Regions from separate parts of the Homo sapiens genome. Here all the other regions are linked to region 1. The links come from fine-mapping of genetic effects on gene expression. A gene starts in region 1. Each other region holds a variant in brackets. All regions are shown on one strand. Distances are from middle to middle.

Region 1 (5,000 bases):
AGTTACAATATCTAATGTGTCCACAGGTATGTTTTAAAAGTTCCTTTATGGGGCAGAGAGAGCATTTTTTTAATACTCTGGTTTCACTTTTTTGCATTTAAATACTTTCTCACATACTCAATATTTATAAAAGGGTTAGAGTTCATTTTAACAAATCCCATTAAATAGGCAGGGCTTTTCAAGGTCTTGCCTATGAATTTCCTCATTTCAAGCACTGTTTAGTCCAGGTAAGCTCCAATAGAACCTGAGAACTTGGGACTGCCAGGCCAACTCTAGGTACTAGTTCCTGACATTTCTTTGAATATTTGGGTGGTCACATTTGTTTTCTTTGGTCATACTTACCCAACTGGACCTCTTTTTTGTTGAAATGTGAACTCTACTGCTAGCCAGTTAAAGTTCATTGTTTTTCAGAACTTTGATTTTGAAGATGAATATGACTTTAACCTGGCCATCATGTACTGCTTTTTCATAGTTAATTCAAAACAGAGCAGAACTCTGGGGATTAGTTCAATAGAAACAATGTATTCTTCAGGATCTTTCTCTAAGTAGAGGAACTTTCTTGACCCTTACACAGCAATATATGGACTTTTTGGACTACCAGCTCATGGTTATTCTTAATGTGATCCAGACCCCAGGGCCATCCCCAGGAAAAGGAAGCAAAGCACCTCCCCACAGTAGGCCTGTGCTAGACACAGTGGACACACAGTGGAAACAAGGTCCCTGCCCAAAGACCTCAAAATTTATTGTGAGAGATGAATTGGTAATTAAATAGCTGATTATTTTAAAAGCCCTAATACAGTTGTGTTTCATGTACATAACTGTAAATGAATGTAAAAAGTGCTGTAAAATCACAGTGGGAGGGATTCATTCTTGCAGTGAGGAAGAAGGATGAGGATTGAGGAAGACTTCAAAGAGGTGAGTTTTGAAATAGGGTTTGAAGGACAAGTAAGAGTTTACTAGGCAGAGATGCATGGAAAGAACATTCCAGGCAGCAGAGACAGCTAAAATAAATAAATAAATAAGTCGCAGAGTAAGGAAAAGGATGGGAATGAGAAGTGGTTCAGTGTTACTACAGCATAGAGCAAGCTTGTCCAACCCACAGCTCAGGATGGCTTTGAATGAGGCCAACACAAATTAGTAAACTTTATTAAAATATGAGATATTTTTACAATTTTGTTTTGTTTTTGCTTATTAGCTATCATTAGTATTAGTGTATTTTATGTGTGGCCCAAGACAATTCTTCTTCCAGTGTGGCTCAGGGAAGTCAAAAGATTGGACACCCCTGGCATAGAGTATTTTGGGGTGACATGATGGGAGCTGGAGAAGTAGGTAGGGGTCAGAATTCAGAAGGCCTTGGACACCAGCCTAAAGGCTTAGAGTTGCTCCCATTGGCCATGCACTCACCAAAGGTGTTCACGTCCCTCTTTTGGCTGTTAGATTGGATGGGCTCAATCTTTTGGCCCTCTGTCTCTAGAATAGAGCCGCTGCTTTTCTACTGGGCCCACTATTTCTTCCTGGTCCTCTGATCCCCTTAGCACTACACAGATCTCGATATTTGCCTCGGGTATCAAGGCTCTGAAAATGATCAGGATTTAGAGGAGATGGCTCATTTTCAGAAAGAGTTTTATATTCTCCCTCTGGCCTTATACACTACAGGCAAATGGCACCGATGTTTTGGAGTTGGGCCAGTTGGGCCTTTTCTCCCCTCAAGAGAGGAGGATTCGATATTCAGTGTTTCTGAATTTCATGCTTAGTTCTTAAGCCATTTCCCATTTGCCCTAAGAAATAAGAGCTGGCAGCAAGCTGCGCTGTTTTTTTCTAAACGGGAAATGGGTTAAGCATTTGTGATCACCACTGAATGAGTGCCAGAGCTGGTTAGTGATCTTCCTGTTCAATCCGAGGTCACCTAACTAGATAACAAAGAGCTGAAACTAAAAGTCCGGTCTCCTGACTCCCAATCCAGTACTCTTTCTGGTGTGCTCCAGCTTCTGGCTCTGCTTAGCCAATTATGGAACAGACAGAATGTACTTGGCTGCCCCAAACGGCTAAAGGGCAGTTCTGTTCCCAAAATGGAATTCTGTTGTGCCTCAAGCTAGGCAGCATAATTGTGTGTCTTTTGGTAACTCCCTGTCTTCTTCTGTAAAATGGGAGTAGAGCCTACTTAATCCTGCAGCTACTTCTAAGATCAGGGATTGGGGCGTGGTGGGCTGTTCTGCAGCTGTTTTGTGATGGATGAGGGATGATAGATCTATGTTCAAGTAGCGGAATCTTAGAGTCAGGAGTTGGAAGGAATCTTGGAGGTGGTCTGTGGTGACAGGAAGCCTCTTCCAATAGACTGAACACGGAAGACTTCCTAGAGCCGGAGGACAAGGGTTTCTTTCCTCTTAGCAGTGAGCTTCTTGTTTTTGGAAATGCTCAAGCCAAGAATGGATGTTCAGGCAGAGGGGATTCCGCTCGGAAGGGGCTTTCTGCACTGAAGTGGTGGCCAGCGGGAAACTCCAGGTTTCCAACTCCTGCACAAATCCTTTCTAATATCCATCCACTCAGGTGAGCTGGCAGGGCAGTAGCTGTGCAGGGTTCAGGGTCATTATATGTCAATGACCTTCAGCACGGATTACTAACAACAGTAACATCCGTTACCGTTTACTGCTTTCCTATTAAGCACCATGCACTGTGCATAACATGTTATCTTTATCTCATATCTAGAATTTTGGGAGGTACTTTGAATCATTACGATCTATCTACTTCTTAGGTGAGGAAATAGAGGTTTAAAATTTAGTCCACAGTCTCGCAAGGATGGAGCCTGGATCAAATTTTGGGTTATCAGATTCCAATCACGTTTCTTAGCTTTTCTTTTTTTTTTCCAACTCCAGTTTCTGTCTTGCTCCAAAAAAGGGGAAGGAGCGGCTGCGGCGCTCGGTTTCCCGCCTCCTAGGGAAGGGAAGGGAGACGAGCAGCGCGGAGGCTGGGGCCCCCTTCCGGGCGGGGCCTACTAGTGGGCGGGGCCTGTCAGTGAGCGGCCCCTGCCCGGAAGGAGCCAGTCCGGGGCGGAGCCGATGGCCTTACAGGGGCCGGAAGTGGCCTGCGGGCGGAGAAGTGCCTCAGGAGTCCTGACGCAGTGTCTTGGGCGCTAACGGCGGCGGCGGCCTTGTGTTTAGACTCCAGAACTCCCCACTTGCCGCGTTCTCGCCGCCGCAGGCTCCCGGGACGATGGTGCCCCGCCTGCTGCTGCGCGCCTGGCCCCGGGGCCCCGCGGTTGGTCCGGGAGCCCCCAGTCGGCCCCTCAGCGCCGGCTCCGGGCCCGGCCAGTACCTGCAGCGCAGCATCGTGCCCACCATGCACTACCAGGACAGCCTGCCCAGGTGAGCCTGGCCTCCGGGTCCCCGCCGCCCGCCGCCGTCCCAGGATCGGCCCCAACCTGACTGCAGTCACTCATGACTCCTCTAGTGAACCCGTTTCCGCCCCCAAGCCCCTACCATGGAGGCTGCCACAGCCCCTAATCTGGAAGTCTTGGGACTTTTCACAATCTCCTAGCACAGGAACCTCAGAACCCTCAAATTCTCTTCCAGAACCCCTCGATGCTATCTCAGATTCTCCATCTTGAACGCTTCTCAGATTCCCTCTCCTTTAACCTAACTTCCAGCCAGCTATCCTGAGTCCTCTTCTCCCTGAAAAATGCCAGACCTGCATATTTCCAGCGCCGCTGTAATCCCTCGACTATGGTGTCTCCTGAAGTACTTTAATGACTGCCTCACATTCCTACCCGGAATATGGGTAGGCTGATTCCTAATACATCATGGTTACCATTCCTTAACTTCTCCCAGCACCGCCTTCACCCCTGTCACTCAGGACCCTCAGCCCCACCTCCCATTTCTCCAGTACTCTGTTCTTTCACCCCCCATGAGCCCCCACAAGCACAGCCCTGAAGTGTTCACCCTTGTCCTCAACTGACCCTCCCCCATGTTTTTAAATCTTTAATCTCCTAAATCCAGTGTTCACCCGGAAACCTTTCACTCTCTCCAAGCCCTCCTCAACAGGTTCCTCCCCTCAAAATATCCTTCCTCACCCACAGTACCCCTTGTAAGTGCAGCTCACCCTCACAGAATTCTAGACACCACCCTCAGTACCCCATCCACACTCCATCATACTCAGATCCAGGGTCCACCCAAATTTCTCTTCTCCTCCTCACCACTGGCTACCCTGCCTTCGAAACACTTCACCCAGAATCGACTTCCCCTCTGAAAAGAGCCCTAGTAAATCCTCTTCCCCTTCCCTCCCCCAGTACTTTCTTAAATCCAGCTTCCAGTTCTTCCAGCCTTCGAACTCCGCTTTCGTCTGAGTTGCCAGATCTCCTTCTTCAATATTAGAAATTTTCTTCACCCTCTAAACCAAACCTAAACTAACTTCTAACTTACTGAGTGAGTAACTCAGTTCCTGGAGCCAAGTTCAAAATTTGTCTCAAAGACCCTTCTCACCTTATTTCTCACCAAACTGCCCTCAGGGATTCCCCACACTCCAAGAGCTAGAGGCCAGGCTTCTTCCCCATGTGTGGAACATTGTGTCACAGGCCTCACCCGAGCTGCTGGGTTGTTTTTCTCTGCATCTGGGACCACTTAACCCAACGTCATCACTACATACCCTCACCCTCTCAGGAGGATCGAGTGATTCTTGTGAAATTACATTTTGTGCAAACATCTAAGACATGAAAATGAGATTATCTACACGTGGCAGGAGGGAGGAAGAAAAAGGGGCTTTGTGCCTGTGGCATAAGCCTGGTACATGCTTCCACCCTGTCAACCTGTGTGTATGAGCTGAGCCAGTATATGGGTGAAAGGTGAGGACTGACAGAACCTGTCTTCACTTGCCAAGTTCAGAGTCAGATGGTCACTGACTTTCAGGCAGGCCTGGGCCCCACCCAGGTTTAAGATCAGAGGGATTTTCTGCACTTTAGAATTGGAAAGCTGGAAAGAATATTCAAGATTATTTATTCCAACCCCATC
Region 2 (5,701 bases), 47 kb after region 1:
ATGTAGAGGGATTAAGCAATTGCTACAAGGTTATTTTCCAGGAGTAAAATTATAAAAATCATAAGTGAATCTGGGGATCTTCAGATGTGGCAAATAACAAAAGTGTTGAGAAATTTAAAGGACACACAACTCCAGTCAGGCTGTGAAGTAATCCAGGTTTCTGGATATGAGACATGGTGTAACTGAAAGAGCATGGTCTGTGTGTCTGCAGTGCCTGCATTCAGCATCATTTATTTGAGCATCCACTGAGTGTCATGTGCAGAGAGGATACAATGTTGAGCAAGACAGTTGTTCACAGAGCTTGCAGAGGAGGCAGTTAAGGAGCATACAAGCAATTACAATGTAAGGATAAGATTACCAATAAAGGAAGCACAGAGGACTATGGAAGCACATGAGGTGACTCCTAATCCAGTGCAGGGTCCTTAGGGAAATGTTCCTGAAGGAAATGTTCCAGACGGAGGCCCAGAACTGTGTGATTAGAATATAGAGTAGTGAGTGATGAAGCTGGAGACAGGGCAGAAGCCAAATCATGAAGGGTTTTATAAGCCATATTAAAAGAGTTTGGGCAAACCCAAGAATATTGGATTTTTGTGCCAGCAAAGCAGTTGAAGAGCTTTAAGCAGGAAAGTGGAAAGAAGTGGTGGTGATACATCTATGGTACTTTAGAAAGACACTTTGGCTGCAGTCTTGTAGGTTAGATTGGAAAATGAAAAGACTAGAAGTATGACATTCAGATAAGTAGTTTAAGTAATCTATTAGCTGGGCAGGGTGGCGTGCACCTGTAGCCCCAGCTACTCGGGAGGCTGAGACAGGAGAATTGCTTGAGCCCAGGAGGCGGAGGTTGCAATGAGCTATGATCCTACCACTGTACTCCAGCCTGGGTAACAGAGTACGACCCTGTCTCTTAAAAAAAAAAAAAAAAAAAAGTAATGGAGATAGAAAAGTGGATGGATTTGAGATGGAATACCATAATTTAAGGGGTAGGCAAAGGATACTAAGATGTGGCCAGAGAGATAGGAGAAAAAACATGAAATGTTATCATGGAAGCCAAAATAAGAATATGCCAAGAAAAGAGTGGCTAACAGTGTTAACTACTGCTTCCAGGTCAAGGAAGAGCAAGACTGAAAATGTTTACCAGATTTATAATCGAGGAGGTCCTGGATGACCTTGGCAAAAGCAACCCCAATGGCATGGGAATGAATGGTAAGGCAGAAGTATTGGGATGCAAGTAGGCAAAAATTGTTATCGAAGTACAGAGGTGAGTTATCTAACCTAGTCTTAGAGAAAAGGGAAGGCTTCCTGGAGGAGGCATTACCTAAGTGGAGTACTCAAGGACAAATAGGAGTTAGTCATGTGGAGGCAGAGAAGGAAAATTTAGGCAGAGAATGCTACATGTACAATTGCTCTTTGGGGGCACTAAAAATAACCTTGTGACTTTGGGCAGTTACTTTGCCCATTTTCTCATCTATAAAATGGGAGTGGATAGTATTGATAGTATTTATCTCACCGAATTGTTGACAAAGATTGGGATAATTTATATAGAATACTGGTACACATTAGGGACTCAGTAATAGTTCACTCCCCCTCATTAAAGTATTACAATGAAACAAAACTTAAAAGATTTTTTTTAAATGAATTTAATCTCTCTCTAGAAACAGTGCACTGATTTTACAAATGTCCACATTTGGTTTTCAGTTTACCAAGATGATGCCAGTATAGCTAGTGAGATGCAGCACCCCATCCTCAGCCCCCTCGCCTCTGGAAGAGACACCAGACTGCAAAGGGCACCGCGTACAGAAGCTAACGGAACTTGAATGACAAGACAAAAAGAGCAGAATCAGTTAGTGTGACACAACATTCTAACATGCCTGATTCTTACATCAAATATGGTAACTTTGGGGTTGGTAGGGGGAGACAAACAAGGAGAATCCACTTGGGAACAATTTGATGAAGTTTGCAAATCAGCACTTTACCCCCAAATTAACAACAGCTTGTATGGAAAAAAAAATGCTCTTTTAAAAGTATATGGTTTGGACAGGTATATTTGTTTTCTCTTGTAGTTTTTGTAAAAAAGTATCAAAACCTTGGCTTTAAATATATATATATATATATATATACACACACACACACGTGGCTTTTTAAAAATTACTTTTTTATAGCACAAAGTGTTTGTAAATGCAGAGGGTTTCTGCTAATTCTTGACTGTGCACATGGTGCATAGCCTGAATGAACAGAGCTTCCTGATTTTTTTTTAACTGAAAAATTGAAGCAGTAATTCTTTAACCTTCTAAATTCTCCATACCCTAAAAATACAGTGTGAGAAGTCTGTTACTCTATCTTCATGCATTTCGGGAAAAGGAATTATTTACTCTGAAACATTTAATGCTAACTCATTTATATTTTGTGAAACGATGAGTGTATGGCTGGAGTTCGGG[G/T]GGTAGGGTGGAGAGGCTTGCATTCCTGTGCCATTTCCCCATTCCCACCAGTGCCCAACTGGACAGTGATTAGTATCCCCTCTCCAGACTCAACGTCTTCAACATTTTCGTTTTTCTTTCTCACAGTTGAGAAAATCTAAGAGGCTCTCGACAACATGGCATGCATCTGTGAAAATCCCACTGCCCTTATATTAGTCTTCATTGACCATATAAAAAATCTTTGACTCAAATATATGAAAAGCAGTCAGCATTTCCCTTTGGCCACTGGAAAGCTTGAGGCTGAATAATATCAGTTCTGCAAAGTGCTGGCAATGCATCCTAATGAATTTTCCATGATGCATGTAGTGCCTTGTACACAATGATCAAGAAATGCTTCATTGAATCAGAAATTAATCTATTTTATAAAGTGCTTACATTGAATCTCTTTCCATACAGCCTCATTTCTTGCCCCCCTTGAGCCTTTTGTTCCTGTTAGAATGAACTGTGCAATTCCTAAAGTCCCTGTGCTCTTTCATACCTCTGTGTTTTAGCTCGATGTGTCTCTGTCTGAAGCAGCTTGGAATCCCCTTCTTAATTTTTAAGACTTAAGGTCACTTCTATGATGACCCTATTCCTCATTTCTTAGGTGGAAAGACCCCTCTCTCCTTTGAGCCCTAACAGTGCTCTGAATAGAATCAATGCCTTTTTTGTTTCCACATATATCATCCTCCACTGCTACTGTGAACTCTGTAAAGTCAGAACATGTGTGACTGACCTTTACATCTGCAGTGCCAGGTGTGTAGTTGGTATCTAGTGAGTGGTTTTAGTGAATGAATATACTGCAGTCATACTGAGATAACTGGAGGGATCAATAGGACTTACTGCCATACATTTAAATCCGATCTCATTCTCTTTTTGCCAGTTAACAGGTTACTTCAATCTGTTTTATAAATAATCTGTGTATCAAGAGTAAATAAGTACAGTTTCGTTTTCTCTGTTTCTAGAAGGCATTTCAGTTAGTGCCTTTGTAATTCCACTGGAGGAAAGGTAGACCATAGTATAGGTAGCAGGTTTGATACAATGTTCAGGCAGCCCAAAATAGTCTTCCTGCAGAAGGAAATGGAGGAAACGCACTGGGACTGGCTTCTGATAAATTTTCTGCCCCCTTGGCATTGTCTCTGAGCTTCCTTCCAGCTCTATAGTCCAGTGACTCTGTGATCTGTGATTGGCTGTAGATAGCTATGCACGGGGGCAAAAGGCAAAAGATATGTAACTGTACCTCAAAATGAGGCTGAAAAGCCTCTATGAATGGGGGAAGGTGGATCTGACTCCTCAGGTTTCATCTTATTTACTGCCGTCCAACACATGAATATATCACAATTTGTTTCTTGTAAAGGGTTGCTCCCATTGCTGCCTCTTTCAAACTGCAGTTGTAGCATATGCAGGAAACATGAATGTCTCTGAGAAAAAGTTGTGAATTTCATTGTCATTTTGAGATCTCAGGCTGTATGTCCAGACCCCATTCATCATTTTTTTCTGTGAATGCCAGGATCTTACTGAAAGTTTAGAAACTATGCCTTAGCCACTGTTATCATTTAATTCCTTGGAAAATTCAGTTTCTTTGGAAGGTTACAGAAAAAGTCACTTGTTTTGAGTACATTTCCATGTTTTTCACTGTCATCATTTTTCTTCAGTCAAAAATAATTTTACTTTCCGTTCTTAAAAGAATAGTAATATGTGAGTAAGCTCCATAGGAGTTGGCCACCTGTTCTTAAAATTCTGTTTGGTATTGGTCATTCTAGGTCAACTGCATTTACCCTCTCAATGAATGTTTCAGGACTATCAACACATGCATGTCATGAGGAGATTGCTGGATTATGCAAAACACACTGCCCAAGCTCCAGAATATAGTTATTTTCTTAGAGTTTAGGAGGCCAAGAGTGACACAGAGGAAGGTCCTAGGTACAGGATGCTAGAACTCCAGAATGTCTGACTGAAAATTCAAAGGGTATCAAGCTGGTGAGACATCCAACTTCATTGAGTTGGGGGCATCTGGCAGGTAGGGATGGGAAGGCATTTGCTTAAGTGTGTCAAGTTCCAGGTATGATGAGATTAGATGCAGCTCCTCTGCTCCTACTTAAGTCAAACACTTCCATGTTGCACCTTGTCCCTGGTTGTCTAGTGGGAGTAAGTGGCAGAACAGCAGAGTTAAGAAACTCAAACTCTTTCTCTTTGGATGGGAAAGCCACTGGGGACTGAATCCTTCTGGGACTATAGGATTATGTTTCCAATGGGAGACCCCACAAGTAGAAAAGAGCACTTCTCCCTTCCTCCCCCAAGGCCAAGAAAAGCAAAGAAGATGTCTATAATGAAGAACATCTATACATATACCCGGAGTTTTTCCTTTTATTTACAAAGCAGTAAACCAAATTCCTGTGTGAACATAAATATCCAATATAATATAATATTGCGTATGCCATTTCCCCCCTCAAATATGACTTCAATTTTGGCCAGTTGTTCTGACTTAAGCCAAAAATTAGTTTCATCTATATGAACATATGATGGTAAGTAACCTATTTATTACCTTAAAATGTTTCCCCACATAAAGGAAATGGTAGAGAGTAAGGGGAAAAGAGAAATAAGAGATGTGATAAAACCTATTCCACCATCTTTATCTTCATCCACAGCATGTCCTAGACATTCAGTGCCTGGGCCAGTCTCTATAGTAAACTTGGGCTGATCTGGAAACGTCTCCACTTAGCTCTGTAAGGATGGCACCCTTCAGGGTGCTTCAGAGGAAACTTACTGAATTCAACCCAAGTGTCCTGAAAGAAATTGAAGAAGTTACTCAAAGAGCTGAACTTTAAAACAAGGAGTAGCTGAGGGTGAGGCATATCCTATCTTGAGTTTCTGAGCACTCTGGTACCATGGAATGTCTGTACACTGACCTTCGCCAAAGCCAAGAAAGCCCTGGTAGGAGTCACAGCAGCCATGGGTGAGCTGAAAGGCTTTTCCTGACTTCCTGGGGTCTCAGGAATAGCCAGAGGTGAAAAGATTTGCCTTTTTTACTACATAATTGCACAAACCATGGTATCTATTTTCTGATCCAGATTTCCAAAGGCTTTTCTGAAAACTACAAGATATACCCCTTGTGGACTGTGTGAAAATAAATTTATCTTTATGTATTTGAACAGTAGCCATAGATGTGCCTCTTCTCTACAGATTTTTCTGTCACACACATACACATATAAACACACACATACACACACAGAGTCTGTGTGGTGGGC
Region 3 (5,701 bases), 86 kb after region 1:
GGTGGAAGCTATAGCATAGAAGCCCAGTAAGACCTTCTGACACCTCTCTCTCCCATAATTAATGGGGAATGTTCCTATTCCAACATGCCCTAGTTGGAGAGACTCCCATCCCTTGCAGTAGCGGCCTTCATATTGGAGGAATCATCTGATTATGGGGCTTGGTAAAGAGGAAAGAGGATTCTCATTGGCCAGTGAGTCCCAGCAAAATTATCACAGCTGAGGAAGTGAGCCAGTGCCATCACTGGGACTTTGAAACTGCTGTTCCCAGCCAGGATCTCCCTCCATACCCAGATGCTTCCTGCTTCAGACACATCAAATTCCAGACTTAGAATCTTAAAGTGTGACGACTCAGACACCTCTGGAGGAGATGGCATTTTCCCTGGGCCAGGAAAGATGGATAGGATGCAAATATAGAGGCTGGCAGAGGGGAGTAGGCAGCAGTGATGGGCAAGTGCCTGGCAAGCCCTCCAGGGTGACCGCCCGTATTTCAGCCCAGCCGCACAGCCTAGTAGCGACAGCCAGTCTGTCTCCCCCACTAATCATGTGTTCCCAGAGGGAAGACTGTGTAGGATTCACCTCACTGTCCCTTTCAGAGCCTGGCTTCAGGCCTGGCACACAGTAGGTGCCCCTCGAATTGAAAAAGTGAGGCCTGGCCATGCTCCCCAATGGCCCAGGCCCTGCTGGCCTGCTCCCTGGGAAGGAGATAATCCTGTGTTTGAAGCTCAGTGATGTGGAACTGTCCCAGTGACCACTTCCATCTGTCCCTGCCGAGGCTGCTGAGAATGTCTTCTCTGCCCTGTGACGTCTGTGCTTGAATCTGAGATTTCAGCAACAGTCGTCCTTGACACCTCAGGAATCCGTCCCCCTCCCCCCAGCATTGCTGGCGCCCTGGCTCAGACCACCGCCATTTCTCCACGCAGCACCCTCCCTGGTCCCCCTGCCCTTGCTCCAAGATTGGCAGACTTGTGGGATGGATGAGCAGATGTCAGACATGGTAACAAAAGCTCATGGGCTTTGCTGTCCAGTCCTGAATCTGAATCTTGGTTTCATCACTCAGCCTTGGGTACTTTTCCTCCCTTGTCTGAGCCTCAGTTTCCTCACCTATAAAATGGGGATGATAATGGCTGCTCATGAGGTGCTTGTGAAGATGAAAGAAGACCATGTCTCCATAGAATCTAGCCATTACTAGTGTCCTGATCGTTATCCTTTCCTCTCCACCACCAAGCCCCACGGGGAACTGGGCCCCCTCCCCAGAAGTGGCTGCCACTCCCTGAGGCTGCCTGACCATGCTTGGCAGACCCTGGAGATCTGACCCCAGACTCACAGGTAGCACAGCCGGCCTCATCCGCTCCACCCTCGCAGTCCTTCTCCCCGTCGCAGCGCCACGAGGCAGGTACACACTTGTGGCTGGTGGGTCCACAGCTCAGCTTCTCTGCAGGACACACCTGCTTGGCTGTGGAGACAGACGTCCATGCATAGCTTAGCCAAGGGGGACACAGGGCATGGTGCCAACCAGTCCTACCACCCTGTTCCAGCCATCTGGTCCAAGGCCCTAGGAGTCCATCAGGGCTCTTCTGGCCCATGTCTCAGTTTCATCAGCTGAGAAGAAGCCTCTGTCTGTGCCAGGAATTTTCAAATCCTAAATCTGACCCTTCTCTACATAACATCTTTCATGGCCCCCTGGTCCCTGGCCCTCAAGTCCCTTTGATCCATTGACTTCTGCCTGCCCCTCCTGGCCACACCTCCCATCCCTCCAAACCTCCACTTTAAGTTCTGGCAACATGGAGCCACCATGCCCTGCACTCTTCTCTGCCATTTCCCAGCTGTGTGCCCTTAGGTGAGATATGCCCCAGCTGGGCCTCAGTTTGCCTTCCAGATCAGTGACTCCATGATTGGAACCTGTAAATTTGGAGGGCTCACCAAGGCCCCAACGGCTCCAATCGGCCCGCCTCTAAGCCCCCTCCCCGAGTGATGGTGCTGATCCTGCTGCTGAGAGCAGCTGCTGCATGGCAGGGCCCAGCGGGACTGCATAGCTATAATTACTGCAGCCGCAATCAGAGGCTGACTCAATCAGGGGCCTGAAGCCCCAGGGTTGAATCTCAATTTGGAAGGAAGAATGAGAACCCTATTCAAGGCTGGGGACAGCTCTTATCATGAGTTTCTGCTGGACCCATGTGACAGGCTCAGCCAA[G/A]GCAGATGCATCTCAGACCTCCGTGGTTGGCTCCCTTCAGCCTTCCAGGGTGTGCAGGAGGCCCGACCTCCGTGGTCTCTAGGATGTGCCAGGCATGGTGCTAGACACTTCCATCTAATTTTCACAATAAGCCAGCAGGGTGAGAGGATTATGTGCTGGCCTCCAGCATAGAGGCGGAGAACATGGGCTCTGGAGCCTGGCTGCCTGGGTTCAAATCCTACTTCAATCACTCACTGACTATGTGACCTTGGCCAACAATCCTTATCTCTGTGCCAATAAAGTGGGGATAATACTATCTCTCATAGGATTGTTATGATGACTAAGTTAATGTCTGTAAAGCAAGCACCTAGAAGAACACCCAGCCCAGTGCTCACTAAATGTTACCTACTATGATTATCCACACATACCAGATGACTCTGAATTTTGCTTATTCACTGAGTATTTGAGCACTGCTGTGTGACAAACATGGTGGTAGGCACTAAGTTCTGGTCACAGAGCTGATAAAGAGCAGTGTTAGGATTGACTGAAAGTCAGCTGTGTCTGATGCCGGAGACTCAGCACAATCCATTTCTCCCCGGAGGCAGTGGGCTACTCATGCTTCGCCCTCCATTTTGCTCTCTGATCTCAGACCAGTTTCTCCTCTTCCCATTTCTATAGCTGGGATGAGAGACCACAAGGGATACAGAAAAGGGCACAGATGAGTTGGGGAGGGGAGCAGGTATCTGAGTCAAGGTCCCTGGACACCACTACTGCCATGGGAGAAGAGCATCTTAGGCCCCTGAAAGTGAGGTCCCCAACGTTATCCCTAGGAATGCATTTCATGAGTACAGGGCAATCCCTTGGGAATACAGGATTCCTGGTATTCATTTCACAGAAATTTCCCTTGCTCGAGGATTGGCAGACTTGTGGGATGGATGAGCAAATAACTGTCAGGTTGAGCTCTGGAAAGTACTAACCCTCAAAGGCCTTTTATATAAGGCCACCTTGGGGCTGCAGTGCAGGGTGGTGAAGGGAAACTGGGAGTTGGGAGATGGGGTCCTTCCAGGGTACCTCTATCACCAACACTGCAGGACCCCAGGTAAGCACCTCCCCTCTGGGCCCCACTGGAACACAGGAAGCTGAAGCTGACCAGTGCTTTGCTGGGGTCCTCTCATCAAAGGGTGGGGGGTGAGGGAGCTACTCAAAGTGCAGGTTCCTGAGCCTCAGCTCATACTGACTGAATCTAGACTTCTAGGGCAGAGCCTAGGGATCTGCATTTTAGTAACTCCCCACCAAAACCCAGGGGATTCCCATGCACCTCTATTTGGGAACCCCTGGGTTGGTTAACATTCTGCAAGCATAGAAGACAAGGGATGTTTCATCTCTTTTCAATTCACTACGATAAAAGTGATACAGATGTTCCATACACTTGCAAGCCCCTAAGAGAGCAATGGGATGGAAGGTCAAAGCAACTACTTATCCCTAAGCCAGGCCTCAGGAAACAGAACCTCTCAAGGGAGGGGGAGGGGAGTCCCAGTTTTTGAACACCTAAGTTGTGTCAGGCTGCTCTGTGCTGAAAATTTTATATTTTTTCATTTCATTCTGCCATGGTCTGAACGTTGGTATCCCCTGAAAATCCATGTTGGAACTTAATCCTCAATGTGATAGCATTAAGAGGTGAGGCCTTTAGGAGGTGATTAAGCCATAACAGTACAGCTCTCTTTAATGAGATCAGTACTCTTACAAAAGAGGTCAGGGGGAGCCTCCTTGCCCCTTCCACCACGTGAGGATGAAGCAAGGAGGTGCAGTCTATGAGGAACGGGCCCTCACCAGACACGGAAACTGCCGGTGCCTTGATCTTGGACTTCCTACCCTCCAGAACTGTGAGCAACAAATGTCTGTTGTAAGGTAAGCAGGCCTTGCGGGCTGCCAGTGCAAATTCCGGGGGTGCCATTCACAAAGGTCATCACATAAGTGGCATACCCGGGCCACTTACTTACTACATACCCGGGCCACTTACTTACTACATACCCGGGCCACTTACTTACTACATACCCGGGCCACTTACTTACTTACTACATACCCGGGCCACTTACTTACTACATACCCGGGCCACTTACTTACTTACTACATACCCGGGCCACTTACTTACTACATACCCGGGCCACTTACTTACTACATACCCGGGCCACTTACTTACTTACTACATACCCGGGCCACTTACTTACTACATACCCGGGCCACTTACTTACTACATACCCGGGCCACTTACTTACTTACTACATACCCGGGCCACTTACTTACTACATACCCGGGCCTTACCTACTACATACCCGGGCCGCTTACTTACCTACTACATACCCGGGCCGCTTACTTACCTACTACATACCCGGGCCGCTTACTTACCTACTACATACCCGGGCCGCTTACTTACCTACTACATACCCGGGCCGCTTACTTACCTACTACATACCCGGGCCGCTTACTTACCTACTACATACCCGGGCCGCTTACTTACCTACTACATACCCGGGCCGCTTACTTACCTACTACATACCCGGGCCGCTTACTTACCTACTACATACCCGGGCCGCTTACTTACCTACTACATACCCGGGCCGCTTACTTACCTACTACATACCCGGGCCGCTTACTTACCTACTACATACCCGGGCCGCTTACTTACCTACTACATACCCGGGCCGCTTACTTACCTACTACATACCCGGGCCGCTTACTTACCTACTACATACCCGGGCCGCTTACTTACCTACTACATACCCGGGCCACTTACCTACTACATACCCGGGCCACTTACTTACTACATACCCGGGCCACTTACTTACTACATACCTGGGCCACTTACTTACTACATACCTGGGCCACTTACTGCACTACAGCAGGGCAGCAGTCCTGCACGTAAGCACTCCATTTTATAGATGAGGAAACTGAGGCTCAGAGAGACCAAGTAACTAGCCCAAAGATGCACAGCAGGCGAGAGACCGAGCCTGGGTTCCTATGACTAGAGCCTTGCCCTTCCATCAAATCCTGCATGCTCCAGAACCATCCCCAAACTCTCCTCACAAAAGCCCAGGTGACAGAAAGGGCCCTTGGCTGTACGCTCCACCTCCAGGGTGGACCTCCAGGTTCTACAGACCCCAGTGCAGCAAGCGGCTGCTTGAACTTTTAATGAATATTTATATAGTTAATTGCATAACCTTTCAGCAAGGACAATGATTAAACAATCTGTCTGCTTCCTTTCTTTATAATTAATAAGACATTTGCTGTGTCCCTAAATAGACAGCTCTAATTATAGGTTCTCAAGGATTCAGCAGTGCCTGATAACAGCCCTCCACCCTCAAAGAGCCAAGGCTCTTGGAATGCCAGGACTTGAGAGATCTCAGAGGTCACACTGATGAACATCCCTTGGAGTGGCAGGAGACCAAGGCCCAGAGAGCAAAAGGGACCTGCCTAGGGTCACACAGCTACTGGCAGTTGGGTATTCCAATTCCTGTCTCTCCTGGAACCTCA

Evidence for each region. PIP is the estimated chance that this variant, and not a neighbour inherited with it, causes the effect. A credible set is the group of variants that fine-mapping cannot tell apart.
Region 2: its variant is the best candidate, but not a certain one, in a credible set for the expression of CPT2 in whole blood (TOPMed, PIP 0.71).
Region 3: its variant is the best candidate, but not a certain one, in a credible set for the expression of CPT2 in whole blood (INTERVAL, PIP 0.61).

The regions. Positions count from the first base shown.
Region 1 is chr1:53,193,734-53,198,733 of GRCh38, forward strand. CPT2 (carnitine palmitoyltransferase 2) reads left to right here and starts at 3,091. Exons shown (of 5, transcript NM_000098.3): 1 at 3,091-3,362. The coding sequence starts at 3,211. RefSeq lists a silencer at 3,075-3,434.
Region 2 is chr1:53,240,743-53,246,443 of GRCh38, forward strand. It overlaps LRP8 (LDL receptor related protein 8), which reads right to left. Exons shown (of 19, transcript NM_004631.5): 19 at 1,622-5,701. It overlaps MAGOH-DT (MAGOH divergent transcript), which reads left to right. Exons shown (of 3, transcript NR_038953.1): 2 at 1,105-1,203; 3 at 1,696-2,041. Among named protein-coding and RNA genes, the nearest start is that of MAGOH-DT, 5.0 kb to the left of the region's middle. The variant G/T (reference allele first, on the strand shown) is at 2,436.
Region 3 is chr1:53,279,263-53,284,963 of GRCh38, forward strand. LRP8 (LDL receptor related protein 8) reads right to left here. Exons shown (of 19, transcript NM_004631.5): 4 at 1,325-1,453. Among named protein-coding and RNA genes, the nearest start is that of MAGOH-DT, 44 kb to the left of the region's middle. The variant G/A (reference allele first, on the strand shown) is at 2,192.